Linked DNA regions of Homo sapiens: region 2 is linked to region 1. The links come from fine-mapping of genetic effects on gene expression. Tissue or cell type: blood mononuclear cells. Region 1 holds a variant in brackets; the other region holds the start of a gene. All regions are shown on one strand. Distances are between the middles of the regions.

The links. PIP is the estimated chance that this variant, and not a neighbour inherited with it, causes the effect.
Region 2: IGSF10 starts here. The variant in region 1 is fine-mapped to the expression of IGSF10 in blood mononuclear cells (TOPMed, PIP 0.95).

What each region holds. Positions count from the first base shown.
Region 1 is chr3:151,540,585-151,548,776 of GRCh38, reverse strand. It overlaps a transcript of IGSF10 not described here. Among named protein-coding and RNA genes, the nearest start is that of LINC02066, 7.5 kb to the left of the region's middle. The variant G/A (reference allele first, on the strand shown) is at 5,018.
Region 2 is chr3:151,456,625-151,464,816 of GRCh38, reverse strand. IGSF10 (immunoglobulin superfamily member 10) reads left to right here and starts at 3,756. Exons shown (of 8, transcript NM_178822.5): 1 at 3,756-3,871; 2 at 4,470-4,556; 3 at 6,107-6,301; 4 at 7,662-7,791. The coding sequence starts at 6,108.

The DNA of each region.
Region 1 (8,192 bases):
GGCCTCTAAATAAGAGAAACTCTAAAAATAAAAATTAAATTAAAAAAAGGAAAAACTATCACTGCCAAAACAATTTGATAAAATTTCTAAGAACTGAAAGATATGAATATTTTCACATTGAAAGGGTTGACTTACAATGAGTGAAATAGCCATCATAAACTTTCAGGACACTGAAAAACAAAAATGAAATCCTAAGAGCTTTCAAAAATGTTTTTAAAAGTCACATACTGTTCCAGTCATTAGTGTCATGCAACAAATTCTCCCAACACTTAGTGGGTTAAAACAACAATTTTATTATGCTCTTGGGTTTTGTGGGTCAGTAATTTAGGCAGAGCGCAGTAGGAATGGCTTATCTCTTCTCCACAATGTCTGTGACTTCAGCTGGGAAGACAACTAGAGATGACGGACAGATGGCTTAAATCATCTGAAGTCTCATTCACTCATATATTTAGCATTTGATGCTGGCTGTCAGCTTGAACCTTAGCTGGGGCTGTTGACAGAGGAACCCCATGAGGCCTCTCTATTTGCCATGGGTTTCCTTAGAGCATAATGTTTAGGGTAGTCAGACTTCTTATATTGCCACTTAGGGTTCCGCAAACAAGTGTCCCCATGAACAAGGCAAAAGGCATACTGCTTCTTTTAAACTAGCCTCGAAATTACCCCAACATCACTTCCACTATAATGTGTTGGATATAAGCAAATTACTGGCCATGCAGATTCAAAGGGAAGGTACACACATCTCAATGGGAGAGTAGAAAGGTCACATTGTAGAAAAGCATGTGAGACAAAGATATTTTGCAACCATTTTTGGAAATACAATCTTCCACACCACAAACATATAAAACTAGAATGACTTCAGGTTGCTCAAACAGTAAAACTGGAAGTTGTATAGTGAGGGATTGATGCCATTAAAATATGAAGGAAAATACATTTAAACCTAGAATTCCATTTGCAAGCTAACTGTAAATAACATGCCGGCGGATTCTTTACATTTTCAGACATGCAATATCAGGAGCATTTGTCTCCCATGCACTCTTTCTCATAAAGTTACTGATGGATTTGCTCCAAGATGAAGACTTAAACCAAGAAAGAAGAATATCTGGGCTCTAGAAACCAGAGTACTCCATACAACCCAGAGGCAAAGAACATCTCTGAAAGAGGAAAACCAGAGTCCAATGACAAATATGCACCAGGTACAGTAAGCCTCCAGTCCAGGCTCTAGGAGAAGCTGTTTCACAAACATGATATTAATAGAATACATGATGTCTATACTGAGAGAAGACCTAGACAATTGGCAACAGTTTAGTTTTGAATAACGTGTGTGTGTGTGTGTGTGTGTGTGTGTGTATATATATATTTATATAATATATGGAAAACTAAGGAGAGGAGTCAAAAGTAAGATTAATTACTAACTTCAGGAAGAACATAATTGTGCAAGAACATAATCACTGGCTATGGCATTGCTCAGCTGTGAAAAGCATTTACATACTGATGAACATATTTAACAAAATGAATATTGTTCTAATGAAAACTATTAAAAAGGATGGAGTGGATCTTGGAAGCTTGCATGTGTGTGGGACGGTGTGGTTGTGAAAGGGAACTAAATCCTTATTTTTCATGGTAGAAAGTTAATAGAAAATGTCTAAAACTGAAAAATCCTGAAGAAGCAATATAAACATATTATTTAGAAATATGGAGAAAAGAGGCCGGGCACGGTGGTTCACGCCTGTAATCCCAGCACTTTGGGAGGCCAAGGGGGGGGTGGATCGCCGGAGGTCAGAAGTTCAAGACCAGCCTGGTCCACATGGTGAAACCCCATCTCTACTAATTATATAAAAATTAGCCGGGCGTGGTGGCAGTTGCCTGTAATACCAGCTACTCAGGAGGCTGAGGCAGGATAATTGCTTGAACCCGGGAGGCGGAGGTTGCAATGAGCCGAGATTGCACCATTGCGCTTCAGCCTGGGCAACAAGAGCAAAAACTTCGTCTCAAAAAAAAGAAATATGGAGAAAAGAATTAATTTAAAAAATGTAAAGAGGCTATACTTATAGAATGGGGAAGAGGGACACAGAGGACTTTGACTTTAATCATCAGGCTTGTACAAGCAATTTATGTGTATATAATGTTGCCAAAAATAAACATACGCCAGGCATGATGGCTTACTTTGGGAAGCCAAGGAGGGATTTGAGCTCAGGAGTTTGAGACCAGGCTGGGCGACATACTGAGGCTTTATCTCGACTAAATATTAAAAAAAAAAAAAAATTAGCCAGGCATGGTTGTGGACACCTGTACTCCCAGCTACCCAGGAGGCTGAGGTGGGAGGATCGCTTGAGCCCTGAGGGTCAAGGCTATGGTGAGCCATAATTACACCACTGCACTGAAGCCAAGGCAACAGAGCAAAACCCTGTCTCAAAAAGTAAATAAACATAAATAGTAAATAACAAGCATAGAAATTTATCAGTTGCTCTTGTTGGTGGGATGGTGGTGGTATCTTGGTGGTGTAGATAATGCTGTATTTTGGTAGGAGAGGGTTTTCATAATAGTCTCGCTGCATGCTAATATCACCCCCTGAGCCTTGCCAACAGAGATTTTTGCTTAATGGTCCAGAGTGAGACCTGGTCATAGATCTGTTTTTGATGCTCCCAGGTTGAGAACCACTGCACTAAAGCTGGGTTCAGCAATATCTTTCTGTACAGAGCTAGGTAACAATTATGCTAGGCTTTTTTTTTTTTTTGTGGCCACATATGATCTCTAATCTAATGTTTTGTTTTGATTTGTTTTGTTTTACAACCCTTTAAAAATGTAAAAACCAGGCTAAGCTCATCTGCTGCGAGCAACATTTGGATAGGGAGCAGTAATTTGTTAACCCCTGCACTACAGATTCCTAACCAGTTACCCTTCAGCACCCTTTTGCTTCTTCCTGATTCATGACAATTTCAATTAACAAATATTCACCACGTTTATTTTCTTTCCATCCAAAAATGTTATCAAATTGACAAATGATTTTTAAAGTACAAATTCAAGGACAAAGCTGAGAAAGGTGAGGAGATGACAGCAGATGAGGAATGCCAATAAATAATTGGAAAATATAAATAAATAACAAACAGATGGAAGGCCGGTTCTTGACAAAGCAAAGTGCAGGAATGCTAAAGTGCAGACACCTGCAGAGGGATTGCAGCTTGAATTGAGCCAATTTTCCCTATGGAAACTTAGAGAACTTCAGGACTTGATGGTCAAAAGTACCACAGAAATTGGGCTAAACCATAAGACCAAAAACAATGGAAGTGATAGAAAGCCTATTATTTAGCACTCAGAGCAAAGGCCTTGCTTCATCCTCCAAAGCTGCAAGGCAGAGGATTATAGAATTCTTCACTGTGAAACTGAGCAGCTCAAGAGAAAAATCTCTTAGTATCTCCTACATGAGAAGAGCACCTTGCTGCCTTATTACCCTACAGTGAATTCTGCCAAACTGCACTCAGTGATTCCATTTGCTTCTCAGGGCCTCCTTTTAACTACAAGTGGGGAGCCAAGCATTGCCAGGTGTTTGAGAAAAGTCTCTAATGTGAAAACAGGCCCACAATAATAGAAAATCAAGCCCAGAAAAAAAGAGAATATGCAAGAAGCATAAAAAAACTTTCAAAATTATGTAACTAATATGCTCAAAAAGATTAAAGGATATATTACAGTTGTGAAACAATAACAAAAGGCTATTAAGAAGGATCCAAGTAAGAATTTTAAAACACTTAAATGTAGAATAACTAAAATAGAAAATTCAACAGATATGAAAGATAAAGTTGTGAAAATGTCTCAGAAACCAAGAGACAGATGGAAAATTTAAAAATTAAGAAAGTTAGAGAATCAGTATAGAAGACCCAATAGCTAAACTAATAACAGTTCCAGAGTAGAAAACAGAGAAAACAAAGGAGAGAAGAATCATCATAGAAGTAAAATAAGACAATTTCCAAAACCAAAACACAAAAATCTTCAGATTGAAGGGCCTATCGCATGCATAATACAATAAATAAAACACAGCAAAGGACATCACAATGCATTTCAAACCCCAGGGCATTGAAAAAAAAAAAAAAGAGAGAAAATCTTAAATACTTTTAGAAAGAGAAAACAGGTCATTGAACAGAGGATTTGGAAATCAAATAGCATTAGACTTTCAGCAGCAAAACTAAAACAGGGTGGGTAGGTGGGTAGGGAATGAAATATAGAGCAGTGTCTTTAAAATTCTCAGTGAAAATGCTCTCCAATTTAGAATTTTTAAGCCATCAAACTGTCATTCAAACATGGAAGCTGGATATATATTTTCAAACATTCCATGCATTCTTTCTTGAAAAGCTTTAGAGGTTGCTATACCAAAAGAAAGATGTGAGGTAGAGAAAACAGGAAATCCTATGGAGGTGAGAGCAGAGAAAACCCCAGAAAGACTGCTGTGTTGCAGCAGCCTGGAGAGCCACCAGGAGCAATTAGAGCCAGTCAGAGGGCCCCTGCAGAATGTTCTCCTAGGCAAACCCAGTCCTGATGTGTTTGAGTACACTGGAAATATTAAAAGACATTTGACAGGCCAGGTGTGGTGGCTCATGCCTGTAATCCCAGCACTTTGGGAGGCTGAGGCAGGTGGATCACTTGAGGTCAGGAGTTCAAGACCAGCCTGGGCAATATGGGGAAACCCCTTCTCTACTAAAAATACAAAATTAGCCAGGCGTGGTGGCATGTGCCTGTAGTCCCAGCTACTTGGGAGGCTGAGGCAGGAGAATTGCTTGAACCTGGGAGGCAGAGGTTGCAGTGAGCCAAGATTGTGCCACTGCACTCCAGCCTGGGTGACAGAGTAAAACTCCGTCTCAATAAAAGAAAAGACATTTGACAGATCTGTTTGAGCACTTAGGGGTAGGGAGTTGGGGGAAATTATCAATAGCTACATAGAAAACTAAACAGATACTTATTGTAAGGTACATGGATATGCTTTGATCAAGGAATAGGCCAAGGCAGATATCCAGGCCTGCATGACTCA[G/A]CAAGTTTGGCAGGCAGACGCACACCTCCACTTGTTATATAACCTATTTGTGTAAGTTCATACTTGGCTCTGAGCCACTATTGTCTGTAAAAGGTGTAATTGCCCTGCTGACACTGTGCACAGGGGCTTGGCTCAGCTCGACTGGTCATGGCTTTTGTTCAGGCATTGGTACCCAGAGAAAGAGAGAGAGCAAGCAAAGCTGTTCATCTTGCAGGTGAACAGAGGGGAGGCAGGACACAGCTTGGCATGGCACGGCATGGCACAACACTGCTCGTGCTCTTGCCCAGAGAGAGAAAGAGTTAAGCTGCTGACCCTGAAGGCAAGGGAGAGCCAGCTGTGCAGCTGCAGGTGTGGGGGTAGTAGAAGCCACAGAGCTGGAGCAGACATCCAAGATAAAGGTGGACAGTGTAAGAGAGCTAATGTGGGTAAGCTGCTGATGAAAAAGCTGCTGAATAAAACTGCATTTCACCTGCCTATGGCCCCCTGAGTGATCTTTCTGCCCATCGACCCACTCCTCCCCTTGGACGGCAGCATAGGCTGGACCCAGACCCCTGAACCTAATACTTATTTACTGCAGGAAAACCCAAATGATAATCATGGACTTAGTCTCCTTGACTACGGAGAGAATTCTTACAAATATTCATAATGTAAAATTTAGCCTTAATTAAACCAAAATTCTGATATAATTATATTGAAAAATTGACTAGGGGAATTAGTAGGAGAGATTTTATAAATGAGCTGAATCATTTTTGAACAAAAATATCAATAGACGATGTCTAGAATTGGTGAAGATAAAGCACATTTTTAAAGATGAGCACATTGTTTTGAAATACAGTGGCAATGTCAGAAAAAAAGCTAAAATTGTGTGGCCTCTAGACAGCAGGTGAGGAAAGTACAAAAATACCTTTAATAAAAACATGTGATTTTAACAAGACAAAAGTATATAAAACAAATTACAATCATCAACAGTAACTTTAAGCATTCCCTCCTTGAAAGGACGTAATCTAACAGGATTACAGTATAGTTAGTTTTAAGAACCCAAATCAGAAACTATAAGAAGTTTTCCTTATGTAAATTCTTACTATAAACATTTCTTACTATAAACATTTCTTACTAAAAACATTTATTTTGTTTTTATAGTAAGTATTCAAGTTATACTGTTAGTGGAAAAACAAGGAAAGAAATGTATCCACAGCAGAATATAAATTTTAAGAAAAATACACATGCATATATATTTATACAAAGGGTATCCCTGCAAGGATGTAGCTGATGTTGAGAAGAGTCGATGCCTGTGAGGAAGAGGACTAGAATACAGAGGTCAGAAATGAGAGGAAGACTTGCTTATCCCTATATACTTCTGTGTATTGTCTTACTTTAAAATATCCTTATGAATGAATTCTACTTATGTTAAAGTAAGGGAGATTTTCGTTATAGTGAGAAAATACAGTAAAAAATTACTATATGTGTCTTATATTATGTCCAATATTATATATAAAGAAAATGAGTATTTATATGCATTTATGGTTCTGACATAAGATATACAGGAAGAAAAGCATTTGCAGCCTGGATATATAAAATAATGGATTTATTTTGAAATGTTTTGAGTTTAGTGCCTGTGTGATAGCCAGAACCTGGAGTACCTGAAAGTCATTTGGGCTGGAGATAAAGCAAGTGCTGTAAAAGCCACTGAATAAATAAGATCACCTGGGAAATTTTTAAGCGTGAATGAGAGGAGAAGGGAGTTGGGTGTGAAAGCAACAGTAATTTAAGGAACAACTCAGGAAAAGAGATTAAAATGAAGCCAAAGAATGTGTTAAGAACATTGGTCATGCTACCTGCCGCATACACAATCCTTTCTAAGGAAAGTTGCTTTTCTTAAGGGAGAAAGTGGCCATGCTTAGCTTGCTTTGACCCCCATTTTCTCCACAGCTGATTGGTCTAGCTTGGGCCCCAGACATACATCTATCTATCCACTCATCCACACATATGTATGTATATGTATTTATGTATTGTACTTCTGTATGTCCTCGAGAGAAGGAGGAAAAGATGATGAATTTCATAAGACATGAGGAGGTATTAGTAAGATGAAATAATAAAAAATAGAGATACTACAAAGAAAAAACTAAAACATATGCAGAGAGAGAGAAGCCAATTTATCAAAAAGGACAATATAAAATTAGAAATATCAGCCTCCTAAAAGAATAGTGTCAACTTTAAAATACAACCATGAGCAAACCTCTAAAAGTACTTTGTTTACTCAGTAATGTGTTTAAATCTCATCTATATGACTATAAGAAAACTGAATTTATGGCCTAGCAAATTAAACAAAGAACTTTAGTGTGCTAGCTAATCTCACTGACATCAAATTCTAAAATATGATTTTTTTGACATGACTCAGCTCTGTATCATAACAAATTTTACTGTTTTGTTAGCCTCCCATATAATGTAAAGATATACTGTCTTGAAGTCATTCTACTTCAACAGACACATCTGACTTTCTGCCATGAAGTTTGTAAAATATGTTTTAGATAACTGTGGACAGTCAAAAACATGACTGATGTAGGAGAAACTGATAGTTTATGAATCTTACTGCTAATCACATCAGATGTAATGAACTTAATTAAACTACTGAGGTTTTGAGGGTATTTTAAGGTTTGTTTTTTTAACCTTAAACGGAATCATTTGTTCCATACACACTATACAAACTTCAGCATGATTTCCACTATCTGGAACTGAACTCCCTCTGATGTCTCCCCTCTGCAGTTGTTCCAATAATTTCTTCTGTAACCTTCACACTTAAAATGTAGATGGTTGTTCAGGGTTCAACAGTGAAAAACTGAGGAGATCCTCAGAGAGCAACAAAATTACTAGTGGATCTCCACTGTGGCTCTGAAAGTTCCTTTTGCCATGCAAGGTATCATATTCACAGATTGCAGGGATTGGTTCGTGTGCATTTTCGTGGGGGACTAGGCTTGTGAGGATGTAAAGCAACTGGAATTTTTGTACACTGCTGGTGGGTGTATAAACTAGTAAACACTTTGGAAAACTGCTAACATCCACAAAAGCCAAACAAATACATACCCTCTGACCCAGCAATACCACTGTAGGCATAGAGTCAACAGAAGTACATAGATATATGTGCACCAGAGGTACGAACAAGAATGTTCACATCACT
Region 2 (8,192 bases), 84 kb after region 1:
CATGGCACTTATCACTTACCGTGCTAGTCTGTAACTTCAAAAAAGGAAGGGCTAAGATGTCAGTCTACTTCACTGCTATTGGAATCACTCAGTGGAGGTCTTGACTGTTTGGTTAATTGAATAATATGAAAATTGTGGAGCTGGGAGGTGGTAATGATTGTGCCTGATTAAAAGATATGTAACAATTTTGGCATTTGGTTATCTGTTGACACATATATAAGTCAGTTTTAAAATTCATAGCTTGTTCTGATTGTCAGGTGATCTATGACTTGTAACTGCTTGCGCTTGGTTGATTGGTGTTAAATAAATACTCTGATTAGGAGGGTGATGTAAAGGATGGTATGGATGATAAATTAAGGATGAGGAGTAAGAAGTAGTAATTACTAGAAAAGACAGCAAATAATGTCAAAGACCTAGAGATGAGGGGAAATGTAATTCTCAGGGGTGATATAAAAGGTGAAGAAGATGTATATTTATTGTCGTGTTTACTAGAAAAAATACAAAGCCTGAGAATTTACCAACAATACTGTTTAAGAAAAGAGTAACAAAAAGAGGGGGAGGATTTAAAGAAAATCATTAGGTAAAACTATAGTGAGAGGTAATTAAAATGTCAAACCATCCTTAAAGCGTAGGTAAATTACCGTAGTCCAGGAAACACAGGTTTAGGAGTTCAGATTGACAATTAACTCAGAGTCGCTATGCTCAGCTCTGAGATCTTGGCAAATTATACACTCAATTAACTTCTGCAAAATAAAGTTACAATTACAAAATAAAGTCATTATCATTGAATTTCATATATTTCTTATTAAATGAGGCCATGTTCAAAGGTGAAAGTGATTTGTAAACCATATGAATCTATAGAAACATATTGCATTATTAAGCATGGTTAGAAAAAAGAGTGGTGAAACTTTTCTTTGATATGCTGTGGACTCTCCAAATTTTATAAATAGAAGCAGGAAGAAGATAGAAAATATAAGGCTTTTTTTGTATTTTTGTAGAGACGGGGTTTCACCATGTTGACCAGGCTGGTCTCAAATTCCTGACCTCAGGTGATCCTCCCGCCTTGGCCTCCCAAAATGCTGGGATTACAGGTGTGAGCCACTGCGCCCAGCCATGGTGGCATGTGCCTGTAATCCCAGCTACTCAGGAGGCTGAGGCAGGAGAATTGCTTGAACCCAGAAAGTGGAGGTTGTGGTGAGCCGAGATTGCGCCATTGCACTCCAGCCTGGGCAACAAGAGCAAAACTCCGTCTCAGAAAAAAAAAAAAAAAAAAAAAAAAAAAAAAAAAAAAAACCAGAAAATGTAAGGCTTAAAAGCATTGGTTTTACAATTTTAAAATTAATTCAGTATTGTATTTTGGCTCTGAATCATTTAGCATTCTTTATCCTCAGCAATCTCATCTGAAAAACTGGTATAATTTTAGCACTTACTCATCAGAATATTTCTGAGAATTAAGCAATACATATAAAGGCTTTGACACATATATACTCTAACTATAAAAGTAATTACAAATATTAGAATTGTTATTAAGTGGAGCAAATGGAACTAGAATTGGTGCCAATATGACTCAGGTTTCTAATAATTCTGGAAGATGACATGAAAAGTAGAAAATACGTCAGAGAAGAGCTCTGACATAAAGCAATTGTAGAGATTTATCTCATAAAAATTCTTAAGAGAAGCAAACATTCCTATCAGGAGTTCACTTTGAAATTGATAGCAAGAAAATGACCCCAGGTAACAAGCCTAGGAAAATAAGTTTAACATGTTGCTGTCATCTTTCTGTGGTTCATCCTAGTTGAGGTCTGGAAGTCCAGACCTGGGTTAGAAATTGACTAAAGAATACGAAGCCATGAGGTTGGTCACCAAGGAGCTTTGGGAGAAAGATAAACTGTGGCTGCCAAAACCCGACAAATATGCCACATTTCCAAAGCAAGCATCCAAGTTTGGACATCACGTGAATTTTTAATTTAAAAGAATCTTGTCAGCTCTGCAGAGCTAAAGACCATGTTCATATACATGCTTCTAGGGTTACTTCTAACTCTGAGTCTCTGATTCTATAATTCTACTTTGGTAACTGACTTATTACTAACCATAAATCACATGAATGCTCGGCATGGGATATGGCACATTATCCATGTTTAGCTAAGTGAGGCAGCCACAACTTTATGGTTAAACGTTCAGACCATAGGGCAAGACTGCCTGAGTTTGAATTAACGGCTTTTCTACTCACAAGCCACATGGCCTGGAGTTCTGTCACTTTCCTTCATGTACCTTACTTGTAAAATGGGAATAACATAAATACTTTCCTTTTAGGCTTTTTGGTGCTATGGTGAGGCTGAAATGAGTTGGTATTTGTAAAACATTTTTCAGAAGTTATTTCACTAAACCAGCAATTCTCACATTGTAGCTGCATCAGAATCATATGGAAGGCTTGTTAACACATGGACTCCTAAGCCTCCTTCGTACAGTTTCTGAATCAGTGGGTCTGGGATGGATCCCGCAAATTTTTGATCTTAACGAAGTCCAAAGTAATGCTGATGCTGGACCCGTGACCCTATCTTGAGATCCACTGCCCTAAAACATTCATTGCAAATTGTCATCAAAAGCTTAAGTGCTATGTAACTACGTGGAAGGAAACAAGGTCATTTTAGTTATGTTAACTCAGTGTTTATGAGTATTGGGAGCCCCACCAAGAATTGCAGGAGATATTACATGTGGGCAAGTTGGTAGAGGTGATTCTGGAGGCATCTCTGCCTCCAGATGGTAGGGTTGGAGATGAGAAAGGAGAATGTAATCCAAGCAGAAATAGTAGTATTTAAATCCGGTTCTGTGATAATGATTTAAAAGAATTCCTCTGAGACATCTATATACGATGTAATATTGTTTGGCAGTTAAAAAACAAAAGGGAAATATTGCCATTTGTCACACATGGATGAACCTGGAGGACATTATGCCAAGTGAAATAAGCCAGAAACCAAAAGAAAAATAGTGTATGATCTCACTTATATATGTGAAATCTTTTTCTAAAAGGTCGATTATACAGAGATAGAGAATTAAATAGTGGTTATAGGGGTTGGAGAAAGGAAATGGAAAAATGTAGATCAGAGAATACACAGTAGCATACATTTATATAGATCTAATGTGCAAGAGGACTATAGTTAATAAAATTGTATGGTATTTGGGATTCTTGCTAAAAGAGTAGATTTTAGCTGCTCGTGTCACAAAAACAAAAATGGGGTAACTATGTGAGATGATGGATATGTTGTTTCACTATAGTAACCATTTTACTATCTGTATATAGCCCATAACATGTTGTATACCTTAAATATACGCAATATAATTTACTTATTTTTAAAAGAGGGGTTTAAATAAAACATTGACACTGCAGGTATCACAGGTCATTAACGCTAACTTAGCCTTCAAATAGAACTTTGGGAGCCACAGGACCAAGGACAGCCTGCGGCGATTTACGTAAACCCTTAAACCAAAAGGCCCACCTGTCAACAGGTGGAAGAGGTCAAGGAGGAAATGAACGGGCGGCCACTGAAACTGCTCTGCCACCCAGCCAGGACCTGCCAACTTGCTAGGAGAAAGCCCTGGGAATTTAAAGAGTGAAGCCACGGCGAATTAGCTTCCCACACGCTCGTAAACATAAAGAGGGGCCCGGTGGTCGTTTCTCATCCTTGTGCTGCTGAGCCCCGGCCGCGTCCCCAGACACAGAAGTCGGGCTCATCCCCCGCCCTCGCTCCGCCTTCCTTCCTTCCCTCCCAGAGCTCCGGACCAGCTCCGCACGACCCCAGCAGCTGAGCCCGGGACCGAGCCCGGGACCTAGCCCGGGCAGCTCGAGCCCATTGGTCACCAGGGCAAACAGGTGAGCGCCTCGGCCAATCCTTCCCCGGAAAGGGCTGGAACCCCACGCCGGCTGGGGCTTGGCGTGGGAATGGAGCGAGTACCGTGGCTGCAGAAGCGGGCGCTGGGGCGGGGAGGGCTGAGGGTGGGGGAGGGAAGACGCACCCGGAGAAGGTGGGGGCATGAAAGCACACGACAATTCTTCGGTGACTGGTGCCAGGCAAAAAAAAAAAACACACACTGAGGAAAGACAATCAATAGATGGAGACATCTGTGACAGATTTGTCCAAAAAAGACAATTTGAGGAGAAGCTCTTGGGACTTTGGAGCAAAATGGAGTGATTAGTAGTAGTTAATATTCAAGTGATAACTTTAAGGAGTATTAAGTACACTACTGAGGGAGGAGAAAGGAAATTTAAAAACCTCCACTTAGCCTTTTGTTTCTGCAACAGCAAGCATCATAATAAAAGAACGCTTCTGGGTTAATGTGGTTATGAGTTATAGAACTTTGAAGCTGTGGAAGCGGCTCCAGGTCTCCCTGAAGAGCATTACTCCTGGCTGTAAGCCAAAAAGAATAAGGCTTTTTGCTCACTTTGGAGCAGAGAACTTTTCCTCCCTCAGGTTTGGACACAATTTTCCATTTCCTGGGAAGATTTTCTGTCTCTGCCTATGTCACAAGAGGACTCAGGACCTGAAAGAAGAGCTCAGGTATTGCCAATTCCTATTTCATTATGTACATTTTCAGCCTTACGTTTGTGAGAATCCCTTATTCATGTGTTGTCTTATGCTATTGATCCTCTTTTAAATAATTTGAACGTGGGCATACCCAGAACTTTTATTTAAGCTGAACGAGAGAATTACCTTCATCCTGCTGTTCCTTCCTTTGTTTATCTAATGATAAGGTGGAAATGCTGTCTCCAATCATACAAAGCTTATTTAAAATTATTGTAACCAGGTGGTTACGATGGCAAAAGTGGTCATATGATTAATCCTATCTTAAATTTTAATTTGGACTAAATTATAATAATACATCCATCATCTTTTTATCTGTATGAAAATCCAAGCAGTTCAGCCCCAGTGTTATTTCTCAGTGTAGTTTGTAGCTAAAGGGTGGTTGCTGGTGGAATCCAACATCATGCTGTTCCACAGAACGGTGGGATTTATTACAAATTATGAAGGTCATTTTGCTTGGAAAAGCACAATAAAGAGTTTATTTCAATCCTGCATTTCAGGAGAGAATTAGGTTTGAATTCCTGGGCTTGCCCCACATATGGGTAACAGATACCATTTTTTTTTTTCTGACAAGCTGAGCATATTTCTTCCCTGGTTATGCTCCCCACCTCCTGTGGCAGCCATGAGCTGGAGGAGGGACCAAGGAAAAAGGCAGAGAGATGTCCGAAGCTGAGCAAAAGCAGACAGCATCATGCCTGCACAGGGTCAGCATGGCTCAAGCCCTCTCAGCTGGTCAGTCGCTGTTGCTTATGGTCATTACTTGGCAGTGAAGTGTTCAATGTGTCTTTTTTTTTGGCAGGGACTTGAAAACCGGTTAGAAAGAGATTTATTCTCCCTTCCAGTGGATTATTACAACCTTTAAAAAATGTTTCTGAAGAAGGTTTAATAAAATGAAAAAACATTATATATGAAATGATAAAATGTGTTACAAAATTGAGTTTGATCACATGTACACATATACACGTAAATGTATGTACACCTATACATATACACACAATAGATGAAAAAGGCTGGAAAGGAATACAACAACATGTTTAAGGATTATATAAGTGGTGAGATTGAGTAATTTTTTTCCTTTTTACTGCTTAATTACAGTTTCCAAATGTTTTATTATGCACAGATATTACTGTTATAATCAGTTTCTTGAAAGTTACTCTAAAAGAATTAATGTATATAAAGGAAACTAAATTCTATATATTTTAGTTGTCACAATCTTTCTTATGGTTTCCAGTTTCCCTTTTAATGAATGCCTGAGTAATAGGGATTGCTGGTTTTCATAAAGAAGTGAGAAGCTGTGAAGAAATTTTCACAACAGTAAATATCCCACTTGATCATAAAGCGCAGTGTGAGGCCAGCAGCACACACTATAGTTTTGTAAAGAGTGCATATGACCACAAAGGGTAGGAATGGAATTGACCACTTACGACCCTTAAAGAAGGTCTCCCAGATTCCCAGAGTGAGTGTGTGGTGGTCCTGGGACTTTGCTCCACCACTCTTTATAACTCTGAGGTATGATGTTTTTTCAGGATGAAGGTAAAAGGCAGAGGAATCACCTGCTTGCTGGTCTCCTTTGCTGTGATCTGCCTGGTCGCCACCCCTGGGGGCAAGGCCTGTCCTCGCCGCTGTGCCTGTTATATGCCTACGGAGGTACACTGCACATTTCGGTACCTGACTTCCATCCCAGACAGCATCCCGCCCAATGTGGAACGCATCAATTTAGGGTGTGTGAGACCTCATGTTTCCTCTTCTCAAAGAGGGATCAGTCGCAGCAGTGACTTGTCCCTCAAACATCTATGACTTTGGGAGATGAATCTCAATTGTTTTAACAATATTTCTTTTCTGAAATGAGCTCATGAGAATTTTGTTTGTTGGGGGCAATAAGAAAACTTTTCCTGGTAAACTTTTATTAGGAGAAAGTTCTTCTAGAATTTGAAGTCCCTCTTGGTAGGTTGGGAGACTCATGACGGTAAAAAGCTTCTTTCTGGCTACATTTTTGCTGGAAAATGATATAGTTTCTGTTAACTATTGGGGTTATGATCATTCATCATAAGAGATGACAGGGTAACTGGAAGTGTCTGCCTATATAATACACACACACACACACATACATACATATATATATATATGTATCCTTTTTATAGGCCCTTTGGTTTCTTTCCATACAAACTTATTTAAAATGGATGCCTAATTAAATTTTTAAAAATATGACTGTATTTTAAACGTTCATGAAAAAAAAGTCTGTGTGTGTCTGAATACACATGTTGGACTTAGCATCGTTTATTTGACATTAGTGAGCATGTACTATGCACTGGGGATACAATGGTAAGATATACTATTCACTTCTAGGATGTGTATTGATCGTTAAAAAGACCAGACAAATGTACGGTCAGTACAATTAATAAAAACTAATAGAGCATACAAAGTGTTTTAGAGACAGTCACTAATATTAAGAGCTAACATTAAGGTTGTGCTCAGTAGGTGCTGGCATTGGGTTAAGCACTGCATCCATTTAATCCTCATAACCCCTTTGGAGTGAGTTCTATTATTTACATTTTATAGATGAGGAAACTGAGGCACAGAAAGCCTGCTGATTTTACCCAGGGTTGTACCACTACTCTGTTGAGCCTGAGCTCGTAATCATACCCAAACGAGACGCCCAAGCCTGGCCTCCAGAGCCCAGGCTTCTTAACCACTGCTGACGAATTCCACCTGGGGGAGTGGTGAGGAGATAGTGTCATGAAAGAATGGGCTAGATATTAAGTGTTCACAAATAGAAAAAGGTGAGGTCAAGGGCATTCCAACCTGAGGGAACAGCATATATATAAAAGTTTGAAAATGATAAGAAATGTGACAAGTTCCCAGAATATGAGGGGGGTGATTGTAACTGAAATGGCAAGAACTGGGTAGAGAGCCGACCTTCTGTGGCATCTGGTGAATTTCAGTTTTTGAAGCATTTGATTGTCTCAATAGAGTACAGTTATAAAGAGAGGTATTGAGTTTTCTTGTGTTTATTTTGGTTATGACATTTGAACTTTAGTTGACAGACTTAGCTTATGCCTAGAATGTCATTTTTTATTTCAGATACAACAGCTTGGTTAGATTGATGGAAACAGATTTTTCTGGCCTGACCAAACTGGAGTTACTCATGCTTCACAGCAATGGCATTCACACAATCCCTGACAAGACCTTCTCAGATTTGCAGGCCTTGCAGGTGAGACTGATGGAGAGAGGGGGCAGGTTAAAGAGGTAAGGTGGGACCTGTGAGATAGACCTTCAAAGGCTGCCTATCTCTACACAATACGAAAATCAACATTCTGTAAATTAGAAGCAGACGTCAATGGAGAATGTTAACTGATTTTTAACTGTGGAACTGTGTGTATAAATTAGAATAATAAGAACTCTGAGGCAAGTTTTCTACTACCTCAAGCTAATAGAAAAAAAATCAATACCCAGAGACGATAAACCTTCAAAATTTAATCCTAAAAGGACACTTCTAGTCATGTTTATCTGGGAATTGAATGTGGTTCCTAAAAGTAATGACTATCTTAGACAGATAATAGTTTTATATAAATCAATGTACTATTTTCAGTTTCATTTTATTTACTTATTCAT